Regions from separate parts of the Homo sapiens genome. Here region 1 is linked to region 2. Evidence: fine-mapped expression QTL. A gene starts in region 2. The other region holds a variant in brackets. All regions are shown on one strand. Distances are between the middles of the regions.

What was found.
Region 1: its variant is fine-mapped to the expression of WBP4 in whole blood (TOPMed, PIP above 0.99).

The regions. Positions count from the first base shown.
Region 1 is chr13:40,888,733-40,896,882 of GRCh38, forward strand. It overlaps the pseudogene TPTE2P5. Among named protein-coding and RNA genes, the nearest start is that of MIR621, 82 kb to the left of the region's middle. The variant C/G (reference allele first, on the strand shown) is at 4,263.
Region 2 is chr13:41,057,140-41,065,275 of GRCh38, forward strand. WBP4 (WW domain binding protein 4) reads left to right here and starts at 4,370. Exons shown (of 10, transcript NM_007187.5): 1 at 4,370-4,536; 2 at 5,505-5,577; 3 at 7,877-7,939; 4 at 8,025-8,136. The coding sequence starts at 4,535. It overlaps TRE-TTC1-2 (tRNA-Glu (anticodon TTC) 1-2), which reads right to left and starts at 3,670; the gene lies at 3,599-3,670. It also overlaps a transcript of ELF1 not described here. RefSeq lists a silencer at 2,985-3,164.

The sequences.
Region 1 (8,150 bases), 170 kb before region 2:
CCCATCAGACTAACAGTGGATCTCTCGGCAGAAACTCTACAAGCCAGAAGAGAGTGGGGGCCAATATTCAACATTCTTAAAGAAAAGAATTTTCAACCCAGAATTTCATATCCAGCCAAATTAAGCTTCATAAGTGAAGGAGAAATAAAATTCTTTACAGACAAGTGAATGCTGAGAGATTTTGTCACCACCAGGTCTGCCTTACAAGAGCTCCTGAAGGAAGCACTAAACATGGAAAGGAACAACTGGTACCAGCCACTGCAAAAACATACCAAATTGTAAAGACCATAGAGGCTAGGAAGAAACTGCATCAACTAACAAGCAAAATAACCAGCTAACATCATAATGACAGGATCAAATTCACACATAACAATATTAACCTTAAATGTAAATGGACTAAATGCTCCAATTAAAAGACACAAACTGGCAAATTGGATAGAGTCAAGACCCATCAGTGTGCTGTATTCAGGAAACCCATCTCACGTGCAGAGACACACATAGGCTCAAAATAAATGGATGGAGGAAGATCTACCAAGCAAATGGAAAACAAAAAAAGCAGGGGTTGCAATCCTAGTCTCTGATAAAACAGACTTTAAACCAACAAAGATCAGAAGAGACAAAGAAGGCCATTACATAATGGTAAAGGGATCAATTCAACAAGAAAAGTTAACTATCCTAAATATATATAAACCCAAAACAGGAGCACCCAGATTCATAAGCAAGTCCTTAGAGACCTACAAAGAGACTTAGACTCCCACACAATAATAATGGGAGACTTTAACATGCCACTGTCAATATTAGACAGATCCACAAGACAGAAAGTTAACAAGGATATCCAGGAATTGAACTCAGCTCCGCACCAAGTGGACCTAATAGACATCTACAGAACTCTCCACCCCAAATCAACAGAATATACATTCTTCTCAGCACCACACCACACTTATTCCAAAATTGACTACATAGTTGGAAGTAAAGCACTCCTCAGCAAATGTAAAAGAACAGAAATTATAACAAACTGTGTCTCAGACCACAGTGCAATCAAACCAGAACTCAGGATTAAGAAACTCACTCAAAACTGCTCAACTACATGGAAACTGAACAACCTGCTCCTGAATGACTACTTGGGTACATAACGAAATAAAGGCAGAAATAAAGACGTTCTTTTAAATCAATGAGAACAAAGACACAACATACCAGAATCTCTGGGACACATTTAAAGCAGTGTGTAGACAGAAATTTATAGTACTAAATGCCCACAAGAGCAAGCAGGAAAGATCTAAAATTGACACCATAACATCACAATTAAAAGAACTAGAGAAGCAAGAGCAAACACTTCAAAAGCTAGCAGAAGCCAAGAAATAACTGAAGTGAAGGAGACAGAGACACAAAAAACCCTTCAAAAAATCAATGAATCCAGAAGCTGGTTTTTTGAAAAGATCAACAAAATTGATAGACTGCTAGCAAGATTAACAAAGAAGACAAGAGAGTAGAATCAAATAGATGCAATAAAAAATGATAAAGGGGATATCACAACCGATCCCACAGAAATACAAACTACCATCAGAGAATACTCTACACAACTCTATGCAAATGAACTAGAAAATCTAGAAGAAATTGATAAATTCCTGGACACATACACCCTCCCAAGACTAAACCAGGAAGAAGTTGAATCCCTGAATACACCAATAACAGGCTTTAAAATTGAGGCAATAATTAATACCCTACCAACCAAAAAAAGTCCAGGACCAGACGGATTCACAGCTGAATTCTACCAGAGGTACAAAGAGGAGCTGGTACCATTCCTTCTGAAACTATTCCAATCAATAGAAAAAGAGGGAGTCCTCCCTAACTCATTTTATGAGGCCAGCATCATCCTGATACCAAAGCCTGGCAGAGACACAACAAAAAAAAAGAATTTTAGACCAATATCCCTGATGAACATCAACACAAAAATCCTCAATAAAATACTGACAAACCGAATCCAGCAGCACATCAAAAAGCTTATCCACCATGATCAAGTGGGCTTCATCCCAGGAATGCAAGGCTGGTTGAACATATGCAAATCAATAAATGTAATCCAGCATATAAACAGATCCAAAGACAAAAACCACATGATTATCTCAATAGATGCAGAAAAGGCCTTTGACAAAATTCAACAACACTTCATGCTAACAACTCTCAATAAATTAGGTATTGATGGGATGTATCTCAAAATAATAAGAGCTATTTATGACAAACCCACAGCCAATATCATACTGAATGGGCAAAAACTGGAAGCATTCCCTTTGAAAACTGGCACAAGACAGGGATGCCCTCTCTCACCACTCCTATTCCACATAGTGTTGGAAGTTCTGGCCAGGGCAATCAGGCAGGAGAAAGAAATAAAGGGTATTCAATTAGGAAAAGAGGAAGTCAAATTGGCCCTGTTTGCAGATGACATGATTGTATATTTAGAAAACCCCATTGTCTCAGCCCAAAATCTCCTTAAGCTGATAAGCAACTTCAGCAAAGTCTCAGGATACAAAATCAATGTGCAAAAATCACAAGCATTCCCATACAACAATAACAGACAAACAGAGAGCCAAATCATGAGTGAACTCCCATTCACAATTGCTTCAAAGAGAATAAAATACCTAGGAATCCAACTTACAAGGGATGTGAAGGACTTGTTCAAGGAGAATTACAAACCACTGCTCAACGAAATAAAAGAGGACACAAACAAATGGAAGAACATTCCATGCTCATGGGTAGGAAGAATCAGTATCATGAAAATGGCCATACTGCCCAAGGTAATTTATAGATTCAATGCCATCCCCATCAAGCTACCAATGACTTTCTTCACAGAATTGGAAAAAACGACTTTCAAGTTCATATGGAACCAAAAAAGAGCCCACATCACCAAGTCAATCCTAAGCCAAAAGAACAAAGCTGGAGGCATCATGCTACTTGACTTCAAACTATACTACAAGGGTACGGTAACCAAAACAGTATGGTACTGGTACCAAAACAGAGATATAGACCAATGGAACAGAACAGAGCCCTCAGAAATAATACCACACATCTACAACCATCTGATCTTTGACAAACCTGAGAAAAACAAGAAATGGGGAAAGGATTCCCTATTTAATAAATGGTGCTGGGAAAACTGGCCATATGTAGAAAGCTGAAACTGGATCCCTTCCTTACACCTTATACAAAATTTAATTCAAGATGGATTAAAGACTTAAATGTCAGATCTGAAACCATAAAAACCCTAGAAGAAAACCTAGGCAATACCATTCAGGACATAGGCATGGGCAAGGACTTCATGTCTAAAACACCAAAAGCAATGGCAACAAAAGCCAAAATTGACAAATGGGATCTAATTAAACTAAAGAGCTTCTGCACAGCAAAAGAAATTACCATCAGAGTGAACAGGCAACCTACAGAATGGGAGAAAATTTTTGCAATCTATCCATCTCACAAAGGGCTGACATCTAGAATTTATTAAGAACTTAAACAAATTTACAAGAAAAAATCAAACAACCCCATCAAAAAGTGGGCAAAGGATATGAACAGACACTTCTCAAAAGAAGACATTTATGCAGCCAACAGACACTTGAAAAAATGCTCATCATCACTGGTCATCAGAGAAATGCAAATCAAAACCACAATGAGATACCATCTCATACCAGTTAGAATGGCGATCATTAAAAAGTCAGGAAACAACAGGTGCTGGAGAGGATGTGGAGAAATAGGAACACTTTTACACTGTTGGTGGGACTGTAAACTAGTTCAGCCATTGTGGAAGACAGTGTGGCGATTCCTCAAGGATCTAGAACTAGAAATACCATTTGACCCAGCCATCCCATTAGTGGGCATATACCCAAAGGAGTATAAATCATGCTGCTATAAAGACACATGCACATGTATGTTTATTGCAGCACTATTCACAATAGCAAAGACTTGGAACCAACCCAAATGTCCATCAATGATAGATTGGATTAAGAAAACGTGGCACATATACACCATGGAATACTATGCAGCCATAAAAAAGGATGAGTTCATGTCCTTTGTAGGGACATGGATGAAGCTGGAAACCATCATTCTCAGCAAACTATCGCAAGGACAAAAAACCAAACACTGCATGCTCTCAATAATAGGTGGGAATTGAACAATAAGAACACTTGGATACAGGGTGGGGAACACCACACACCGGGGCCTGTCGTGGGGTGGGGGGAGTGGGGAGGGATACCATTAGGAGATATACCTAATGTAAATGA[C/G]GAGTTAATGGGTGCAGCACACCAACATGGCACGTGTATACATATGTAACAAACCTGCATATTGTGCACATGTACCCTAGAACTTAAAGTATAATAATAAAAGAAATCCGATTCTAAAATAATTACTGCGTTTATATGTGCATTCATCTGTTTTACAGTGGAGAAACATTTCACTGTATAAACATAATACAATGAATGCTAACATTTTTGTATTCATTCATTCAACAAATAATTACTAAACACCTATTATAAGATAGTATAGTCCTCAAGACTGTGGGGGATTTTTATTTTATTTGTAGAGAAAAGGGGCTTGCTCTGTCTCCCAGGCTGGAGTGCAGTGGAAGGATCATAGTTCACTGCAGCCTTGAACTTCTAGGCTCAAGTGATCCTCCGGTCTCAGCTTCCCTAGTAGCTGGAACTATAGACATGTGCCACCACTCTCAGCTAATTTTTCTGTTTTTTTGTAGAGACAGGGTCTCACTATGTTGCCCAGGCTGGTCTGAAACTCCTGGCCTCAAGCCATTCTCCTACCTCAGCCACCCAAAGTGCTAGGATTACAGGCATGAGCCACCACACCCAGCTGGATTTTTAAAATATTAAAGACACATCCTCGACCACTTGGAAGTATGTGAGATACTTTAAGAAAGTTACTAAAGTTCTAAATAAATAAATGTGCTAAAAGCTCAGGAGAGACCACACCTGACTGTGAAGAGGAAAGGCTTTATACACCCCTAAGGGCTTTGGACGGTAGAAGCATTCGCAAGAGTGAAGGGGTGGGTCTCCAGAGGCACAGGGAGTGGCCTAACTGGAGCACTGGGGTGTGAAAAGACACTGCATAGAGGGGTATGGAGAAGCCCAATTTGCCTCAAGTCCAGGACTTGACTTGAAAAAAAATCAGAGCAGTGAAAAATACAGATAAAAAAGAAGCAGAGCTGTGCATGGTGGCTTATGCCTGTAATCCCAACACTTTGGGAGGCTGAGGCAGGCTGATCACCTGAGGTAGGGAATTCGAGACCAGCCTGACCAACATGGAGAAACCCTGTCTCTACTAAAAATACAAAATTAGCTGGGTGTGGTGGTGCATGCCTGTAATCCCAGATACTCAGGAGGCTGAGGCAGGAGAATCGCTTGAACCTGGGAGGCAGAAGTTGTGGTGAGCCAAGATCGTGCCATTGCACTCCAGACTGGGGCAACAAGAGCAAAACACCATCTCAAAAAAAAAAAAAAAAAAAAAAAAAAAAAGGCCGGGCACAGTGGCTCATGCCTGTAATCCCAGCACTTTGGGAGGCCGAGGTAGGTGGATCATGAGGTCAAGAGATCAAGACCATCCTGGCCAACATGGTGAATTCCCGTCTGTACTAAAAATACAAAAAATTAGCCAGGCATGGTGGCAAACACCTGTAATCCCAGCTACTTGGGAGGCTGAGGCAGGAGAATCACTTGAACCCGGGAGGCAGAGGTTCCAGTGAGCCGAGATCGTGCCATTGCACTCCAGCCTGGGCAAAAAGAGCAAAACTCTTGTCTCATACACACACACACACACACACACACACACACACACACACACACACACAAAAAGAAGCAGAAGTTAACAACTTCTGAATGCTGGAGTAAGTTCACTTATTAAAATTAAAAATTAATAGTATCCTAATAGCATCTTTTACTCTCTAATCAAGGTTAGTCCCCTGAGTCTATCCTTACCCTTAAACACACAATCACATAGCATTTATATCTACTTTTTGTTTTCTTTATTCAAATAATGCTCTCACCTCTATTTTTAAGTGGCTAAAATCAGCATTTTTAATGCAAATATTAAAGTAAGCACCATAACATTATATAAAACAGTTTAAATGAAGAATTGAATTAGAATGTTATATTCTAATTTTTTCTATGAAAAGGATCGTTAGTTTTGCAAAAAGAATTTAAAAATCAAAAGGCAGACTTAACAAAAAGAGAAGCCCATTCACCCCTAGGTTCTTTGACTTCTTTTTATCAGATGATTATACCATCTGCCTTTAGCAAAAAACCTTCAAAATTTGCACCTTAAAATACTCTAACAAAGTGGTAACATAGGGAAAACTGCCAACATTTTTAATCAGACATCAAGTGATGGTATATGTATGTGGGGTATGTGGTCTCAAGTGTTTATTTTCTTTAGGAGCAAAGAAATGTAATAATTGTTTCCATAATAAGAAAAATATGAAATCATTTCACTGGGATAAGGGTGGAGTATACTATCTTTAATGTAATTTACATGTTTAAACTCTACATACATAAAAACAAATATTTCATAAGAATCTCTAGAATTCCCTAAAGTAAACTATGATTTCTTTTTTTTTTTTTTTTGAGACAGAGTTTCTGTCACCCAGGCTGGAGTGCAGTGGTGTGAACTCGGCTCACTTCAACCTCTGCCCTCCGGGTTCAAGTGATTCTCCTGCCAGCCTCCTGAGTAGCTAGAATTACAGGCATGAGCCACTGTGCCCAGCTATTTTTTTATAAAATAATATACCACCAATATTTTCTCATACACGGTATTAAGTGATAGTACTCTGGTTACTTTAAGGTGTCACTTCTGGTATATTTATCAAAAGGAGACAGAAATCCAATAGCTGGCAATGACACAGCAACAGTTACTGAAAAGAACTGTTAATATTATCTGAAAGATTAAAATTACATCTTGCTCCTTTAATTTTCAACTCATCTGAAAAATGAGGGCCTGAAAAGTACTGTGTTTATCACCACACTAAACCTGGCCACAAGGCACCCTATATTCACACTTCATGTTCCTGTAACTATTTACACATTGTCTATAAAAAGTTCCTTGTTTCACCTGAAAAGCAACACAGACTAGCATTCATATCTACTGAAAGCCATCATGACCTATGTAATTGTGCAGCATGAACAAAGAGGCCTTTATAAAGCCAAAGGCAAAGCTCTTAGTAACAACCTGTTTCAGCTGAGACAAGCTGACCTCCGCTTCTGAAATTATACTTAATCATTCACCAAAATAGCTGCATATAATAAACCACTTAAAGCAGCTTTTTAAAAAAAAGGTAAAGGGGGTTGGGTGCAGTGGCTCACACCTGTAATCCTGGCACTTTGGGAGGCTGAAGAGGAAGGATCACTTGAGCTCAGGTAGTTGAGACGGCAGTGAGCCATGATAGTGCCACTGCATTCCAGCATAGGCAACAGAGTGAGACCCTGTCTCCCCCAGCAAAAAAAAAAAAAAAAAGGGAAAAGAAGGTAGGGGCTAATTTTCTATGAATTCCCTTTTACACTTAATTCACTTTCAATGCTTGTACTTTCAAATGTTTCAATGTTTTTAAAAATGAAGTCTTAAGTCTTGATTCTGGCAGATAGTTCTAGAATTAGCACTAGTCCAATTTCAGAGGTGTTTATTGCAACCATTAAGAAACCATTCTATTTTCATTTAAGTCAAAAATACTTTAAAAGTTAACTTAAAACTTTGACAGTTTGCTTGAATGTTGTTCTCACATGTACCAGGAAGGATCTCAAGGTGTTAATATCCCAAAAGAGTATTCACAGGTTGTCAATAAGAATCCCTACTGTGCTGGATCATTAGTTCTCAACATTATATGTATTACCATCCACCTCTAAAGTCTCCTCTGCATAGCACAGAGTTTACTTTTTTCCAATGAAAGAAACTTCAAAATTAAAGAGATATCATTACTCTTAAGCAATCATGATATCCAGACACCACCATCTTAAGTGGTAAGTAAGATCCCACTTACCACCACAGGTTAACATGAAGGGATCTTTCCCAGAGACTAAAGAGCTGGGGCAATTTATTGGCAAACTTTTGAGAACCATATACTTCAAGACTATACTCATTAAATAATTGCTTCCCTGATCTTCAGAATGCAACCT
Region 2 (8,136 bases):
AACTTTCACGTCTTTTTTTTTTTTTTTTTTAAGAGATAAGGTCTTAGGGTCTTGCTCTGTCACCTGGAGTGTAGCGGCAACATCACAGCTCACTGCAGCCTTGAACTCCTGGGCTCAATGGATCCTCCCACCTTAGGCTTGCAAGTAGCTAGGACTACAGGCATGTGGCATCACACCTGGCTAATTTTTTTTTAATTTTATTTTTGTAGAGACAGGCTCTTGTTATGTTGTCCAGGCTCTCTCACTTTTTCTCTTTTTTTTCCCCCCACCCCGAGATGGAGTCTCTCTCTGTCTCCAAGGCTGGAGTGCAGTGGCACGATCCTGAGATCCTGGCTTACTGCAATCTCTGCCTCCAGGGCTCAAGTGATCCTCCCACCTTGGCCTCCTGAATAGCTGATACAGGTGCAGCGGGTGCCACCACGCCTGGCTAATTTTTTGTATTTTTGGTAGAGATGGGATTTCGCCATGTTGATCCACCTGCCTCAGCCTCCCAAAGTGCTAGGATTACAAGCATAAGCCACCACACCCTGCCTCTTTCATGTATCTTCTAATTACACCTAACAGTAGCAAATATTAAAGAGGTTATTTGGGTAAATCCACAGCACTCAGTGTCACTAATTTATGGCCCAAGAGACAGCACCTAAAATATGCCTGCCAATGGCACAAGCGTTAAGAATGAATCCTCACAAACTGATTACCTAGCCTTAATCAATTTAAGATATACGTCTTACTGACAGTAGTGAGCAGCTCTGTCTTCGAATACCAAGGTCACTTTCAACAAAGCAAGACAGATTATTCTCACACTTTAAGCCTAGATTTCATTCCTATAAAGTGAATTCTAATTAACTGATTGCTTTTCTCCATTCTATTAATTACAAATTAATATTCAACTCCTAAACATAAAATGTACGGACACAAAATATTCTACATGTTTCTTTATTGTTTGAATCTTTTAAAACAAGAATTTTTCACATGCCACTGCTACCTTTGGGTTTTCCAAGAGACAGAAATGGTTTAAAAATTTTTGTGACATAAAATGTCACTCCTTGATAAAAGAACCTGTTACCTAGTCAAAATTTATCAAGTTAAAATTCCTTTCTACATTCCCAGCTTGATCTCCCATGGCCCTCCCTGCAGGCACTCTGTGCTCCTGCCAAACCGACTACTTGCCAGCCTCATACTTGTTCCCCCTACCTCAGCTTTATGATTCACATTCCCCAACAGGAGAAATCCAATCAGTTCTTCAAGGTCCACTCTCCCCTCTAGGTCTCTTCTCCAGTCCTCTCCCTTGAGCAGAACCGATTCCTCACCTCTGTTACTCCAGTAGCACTTCTACAACTCAGATGTTGCCTTACCATATTCTACGTAATGCACAACTACACGAAAGATAAATCTGTGTTTTATACAGAGATGATGCAACTACTTCCTTTGTGTTCACCCCCAGGTATATAGTACAACTATTTGCAATTACTGAGTGCACAGTTGAAAATAACATCCATTTTAGCACCATTTGGTACAATGTTGTAAACTCATTACAAAATACAAGGTCAAGGCCTGGCGTGGTGGCTCATGCCTGTAATCCTAGCACTTTGGGAGGCCGAGGTGGGTGGATCACCTGAGGTCAGGGGTTCGAGACCAGCCTGGCCAACATGGTGAAACATTGTCTTTACTCAAAATACAAAAATTGGCCACGCGTGGTGGCGGGTGTCTGTAGTCCCAGCTACTTGGGAGGCTGAGGCACGAGAATAGCTTGAATCCGGGAGGCGGAGGTTGCAGTGAGCTGAGATCGCGCCAATGCCCTCCAGCCTGGGTTAACAGAGCGAGACTCCGTCTCAACAAAAAAAAGAAGAAAAAGTCAAAAGTTAAGCCCTCTCTGGGGACAATTAAGGCAGAGTTATCCGAGTTATCTTTCCTTCTTTCCAAATTTTCAACTACTGTAATTCTTTAGTAACTGCTTCTTAATAATGACACACTATTACTTATTTAAATGAAAATTCCACTTTCATTATCTATTCAGGAATCGCTCAACAATTCTTGTAACTCTATTTAAAATTTGTGAGTGATACGTGTTATCAAAAATGTATGGCTCTAAAGCCAGAGAACAGAGAAGGTGAAAAGTCTCATCACACAGCTAATCACAAAGACCAAAATATTATTCCATTCAGTATTCTATCCACTAGCTAACATAAAGAATACAAACATCAGTAACTTCAAAAGCATGTGGTGGTGCTTGGTGTGTAGCAAACACACAAATATTTGAATTAATGAAGACGATTTAAAATACTTAGGCTTTTTCTTTCTTTTTAACAAGGTAAGCCTAATTAATCCTTAATCACGCAGATCACATTAACAAATTTACTGTGCAGTTAAAGCTACAAAATAGTCTGGGAACACACATACTAACAACCAAAACATCTGCTTTCAGTAATGGCACTGACCAGAAACCCATCTACAAGAGTCACTTTTTCCTTCTTCGTTTGTTCCCAGAGGCCCAATAAACATTATAGCCGACCCTATTTTCTAATTTCAGCTTGCATTTAAGATAACGCTTTTGTTTCATTTACAGCTCACATGCTGCTGACACAGCTGTCCCTTCTTTGTAATAAACACAGGGCTTCTATATTTAAAAATACAGTGAAACTTTGTTTTAACGTCCCCTCCCCAGTCTCCAGCCAATTTTCTCTTTCCCAAGCCCCACCTCCACCCCAGGATGTTTTGCCGTTGTTTTAATCAATTTTTTTCTTTAAATCAACCGCGCTCAAAATGTTAGACCCTTTGGAAAGTCGATATACTTATTTAAAGCCATCTCATCAGAGTGGTATTTTTCTCCTCCATAGCTCGTGGTGTGTATTTTTAAAGGGAAAGAAAAAAGATTCTCGTTCCCAAAGGCCTTTTTTCGAGGGTACTTTCCGTGACTGCGACCAGCGCCCCTTAAGTCAAGTTGGGAAGACCTCGCAGGCCGGCCTCGCGCTTGCTCAGGCGCCGCGGGTGGAGACGCGAGCGCACACGCGGCGGAAAGGGGCGCCGGGCGGCTGCGCGGCCGGGAAAGCGCGTCCCCCCGGGAGGGCGCGGAAGGCACACTGTGTTCCGTGGGGCCTCGTAAATACCCTGCGGCCAGAGAACCACTAGAGCTACTGGTCCGGGCGCGGGCTCTGGGGCGCCCAGGGCAGGGGGGTCAGCCCGTCCTGCATAGGAAGAGTCGCAAGAGCGGCTGAAGAGGGTGTGGGCCGGACGGGGGCGCTGGGAGGAGATAACGCAAGGCCGGAGTTAATCATCACCTCCCGGGCGTCTGGAAAACTACGGGCCGGAGGGGCGGGGGAGCAGCCCAGGGGAAAGTGAAACTCCCTCAGGGCCCACCAGCCCCGTGAGCCGGAGGCGGGAGGGAGAAGGATCGGAAGCGCATTCGCTTCTCCAGCAGGCACGGCGTGGCACTCGAGGCTCCAAAAGCCGCAGCCCAGCTCCTGGCGCCACTAACTACAGTAATGCTTATTTTCTACAAACTCACCCAGACGGGGACAAGAAAGGAGCCAGAACACAAGATTTAAAAAGTCAGCCCTCCAAACCGATAGTTGCAAAAAAAAAGAAAAATAAGGAAGCGTTCCCATACCGGGAGTCGAACCCGGGCCACCTGGGTGAAAACCAGGAATCCTAACCGCTAGACCATATGGGAAGTGCTATGAGAAACTGCCGTGACCCACCTGACAAGCATAAGTGCCTCTGCCTCCTTCGCCGCACCTCTCGCCACCGCCGCCTCTGCGCTACTGAAGCTGCTGCTGCCGCCGCCGCCGCCGCCGCCGCCGCCGCCGCTGCTGCTGCCCACACGCTCCCGAGCTAGGGAACAAGCCCCATCCGAGCGCGTGGGCGTCGTAGGGGAGAGGAGGGGCGGGGCCGCTCCGCTGCAACAGCAAAGTTTGAGGCGAAGCCTAGCGACTCGCAGCGCCGGTCCCGCAGTTTCACCTCTTTTTTTTTTAACTCCGCCAGAGGACCCCGACCCACAGGTCCCGGTTGCTCCGCTGGTCAAAGTGCGTGCGGAGTAGTTGGCAAAGTTGAGAGCGGAGACGTCTCTGGGAACAGCTGTTTGCGTTCCGGGCGGAGGCGGCGCGCTGAGCTCCTTGGCCTTGAGCCAGCGAGCCTAGAAGGAGGATGGAGGTTTTGGGCCCCAGGGGAGGACACAGAGACGGCGGGATGGCGCAGGGACTTGAGGCTTGAGATCCCGTCCTTCAGCTCAGGTCCCGTCGCGCTTTTACCCCTTCCCGGTGACCTCAACCCCTTTATACCGACCCCACCTCTTTGGAGCCGGGAGTACCGCCCCTGTAGGGGGAGGGGAGAGGAGGCGATTTCGAACGCGGATTGGATCGTCTGGGCACCCGTAGTTGGGAACAGCGGAACGCTGGTCCCGGGGACTGAGTAAGGTGTCTGGATCGGAGGGAGGTTCGGGTGGGCATCGGGCGGCTGGAAGAGCTCGACTCGTCCCGCTGGGAAAGCGCGAGTCTGAGTGGAACCCTGGACGACTTGCAGAGCGGCTGGCGCAGTCATGTGAGTTGGGTCTCAGGCCCTGAACAACGAGGTGTTGTTTCTCTGGGCCGCCCTTTCTCGCCCGGGTCTTCCCCTCCTCTCCTCCCGCCCTTCGGCCGGGGGCGTGACAGACGCGTTCTTAACTCGCTCGGGACCGGCCCCAGACCTGCAGGGCCGGTTCTCAGGGCGGGGTAGAAATGTTACCCCGCTGAACGCCCTGGGGTATGGGGCACGGGCTCTAGGGGGAGGCCGGCGGCCGGTTCAGGGGGCTGGTTGGACGGCCGCGGGTGAAGCGACGCAGTGCTCTCTCTACGACGCTGTCGGGGGTCGCATGCACCCCTTGGGTTTCCGAAGCCCCTGAACCCTAGGGTATTGTGAAACTAGGGCTGGGCTGCGGCCTCCCCCGCCCACTGGAAGCGGCCAGCCCTGGATAGCGTAATGGTTTTTTTTTTTTTTTTTTTTTTTTTTTTGTCGGCCGTCTACGAAGTCCCATGGCTTTTCCAGTTCTCTCTTGCCTTGAGGCTCAAGAACAGTTTGTTTTAACTGAGAGTCTGGGAGGAACTACAGTTTTCCCCAGAGTAGTCTTGTACGTTGTTCTCTTGGTGGGAATAACTTGATTTAAGGCAAACTTTATGAGTTTCTTCAGGTTTCCATTACAGCAACCTCCCCCAAAGCCAGAAAGGATAAATGTTCTTCTAAGATGTTCCTTAGTTTTTCATAACGATGACGATAACAAGTGAGGAATTTTTGAAAGCCATTTTATTGAAGGGAGTTTTGTAATGAATCAGATACAGACTTTTTCTACTCCGCTGGCAACAGAATTTCAATTGACTGTGCTCCAACCAGATAAATAATAAAACGACTATACATAACAAGACAAGATTCAGTAGCAGGGGCATATATTTCAAACTTTAAAAACTGTAAAGCATGCAGAATTTAACCTTTTTTAAGTTTTACATGAGCTTAGCCTTGTTGTCTCTCTTTTTCAGGGCGGACTACTGGAAGTCACAGCCAAAGAAATTCTGTGATTACTGCAAGTGCTGGATAGCAGACAATAGGCCTGTATGATAATTCCGCTGTTAGAGATTCTAATAATAATTGTGTTGAATGAAGTGCTCCTTTTTGATGTAAACTCAGTTTACAAAGCACTTTTATGTACATTGCTCTTGCATTTTCAAAACATCAGAAGATTTCTGTCTTCTCAGTCCCCTATGAAAGCTGTGAGCCTTCTTCCTTTTCATCAACCTGACTTTGATTATATATTAAATTATTTCTCTGTGGCCTTTTGGGAAATGGGCAATGAGTTGGTCATATCATTCATGTTATGAAGCACCTATATTATAATGGTGGTGTTCATAATACTGTCATACCCAAAGAATTGTGGAAAGCCCTTAAAAAATAAAAGCAACATGTTTAGTTTTTCTTGTATATTTTGTGGTCTAGAAATAATCAAGTGTATTTAATGCAGAGCTGTGTATCTTTAGATGCTTAAATTTGAAAGAACACCATTATTTCCTTTCTCATGAAACAAAGTAACAACTCTGTTAGGTATGTTGTTAGTCTGTCTCATAGTTGAGATCCAGTTTTGAAGATGTAAAGCAAAAAGCACACCGCTGATTTTTCTCCCCTCTTGCATGTCAAAATACTATGTACATACCACATAAACACTAGGGTATCTGTTAAATATATTTTATGTTGATACCGTTTTTACTTGGCAAAGTTGGATGCACAAAGAATAGTAGTCTCATATTTTAACAATGCTGTGGATTTCTTCTGTAGACATTTATTTCCTGTTACCTGCAAGGTGTTTAGGATTTGGATTTTTTTTTGATGTTTTGGTCTTTTTGGATAGTTGCTAAAGTTCTTCACTATTTTACCTAGGCTATCCTTATAAATAAATACCATGAATTTTTAAAACCACACAGGTCACTTAAAGTCTCTCTTTCTTGGAGGTACCTAGGCTGTAAAATGAATTTTGTGAGTTATCTAGAGTAAGTAATCCCTTCCAGTGTAGTCTGTCTTTATCTTCTTGAGTTGGTAATACACATTGATTTAACCTTTAATTAGAAACAAAATTAATTTAATTTTGAATGGTCCTTTAATATTGTATTCTTTGTGTAGTGTAATCAACTTTAGGAAACGCAATGTATGAAAAACAGGAGGATTATCTGCTTTACAAAGTCACACTTTAAAGATGAATTCATGGTAGTATTTTAAAATAGCTCAGTTAATGCATCATGTAAGATTTGATTGACAGAACTTATTTTGCAGAGCTTGTGAGGAATTTCTTACTGCATTTAACTAGAAACTTGTAATTTAGGGAGCATTTCTGATTGTTTAAATAGATAATTGCGCTCACTCACCAGCCCCTGTCCCCAGTCATCTAGTGGCCATCACTCCCCATAGGTTATCATTTTTTTTTTTCATTTTCTTGCCTATCCTTCCATTGTTTCTACATGCATGTAGACACAAGTTCTTATTCCAGCATACATAAAAGGTAATGTACTGTATATATTATTCTGCACTAGTTTTAAAAAATTTAACAGTATGTAACTGGAGCTCCCTTTGTATCCATACATAAAGAGCTTCTTTCTCTCTGTTACAGTAGACTATGAGAATGTACCATAGTTTAACCAGTCAGTCCCTTAGAGATGGATACCGTATTGTTATTGCAAACAGTGCTGCAGTCAGTAAGCTTGTGTATATCATGATTTTGTACATGTGCAGGTATATCTATAGAATAAATTACCAGAAATGAAATTGCTGTGTCAAAGGGTAAATGTATTTGTAGTCTTGATAGATATTGCCAAATTATCCTCCATAGAAGTTGTACATTTTGAACCATTACCACATTGTATAAAAGTGTTTGCTTATAATTTACGAGGAATCTTAAAATACATACTTTTCTCCTAAATTTAAGGAATAAAGCAATAAAATCATTGTTCTCTATGTCCCTCCTTGTGACAAATAGAGCAATAAAATTCTAAAGGCTTTTGATGTTGAAAGTTGTTTAAGATTTTTTTCCCCAGTCTTTTGGCTTCATGTCACGTTTGAGTCCTCATTACAATCATAGTCACTAGATTAGTCATCAAGGGTACCTTGTATTTTTCTCCATTAATAAGGTCATCATGGTTTATTTTAAGAACCAAAGGAAACCTAGTCAGAGGACATAATAATAAACAATGTAGTTCCCTAGCATCATTTGATTAAAAGGGCCAATTTGCATTAAATTAATGTTTTCATCTTTTCTGCCATTCATTTTAATTTTAATTTTCTCATGTTTATGAGAAAATTATGTTTACTATGAATTTTATGATGTTTATGTAGTTTTCTTTTGTTATTTTCTCTTTTCATTTTCAAGAGTGTTGAATTTCATGAAAGAGGAAAGAATCATAAGGAAAATGTGGCAAAAAGGATCAGTGAGGTAATTTAGATTGTTTATTTGCTAATTTTTCTATGCAAATGTCAGTCCTTTATCTCACTTTCACTGTTATGTATGTCTTACATAGATTAAACAGAAAAGCCTGGATAAGGCAAAGGAAGAAGAAAAGGCATCAAAGGAGTTTGCTGCAATGGAGGCAGCTGCCCTGAAAGCATACCAAGAGGATTTGAAAAGACTTG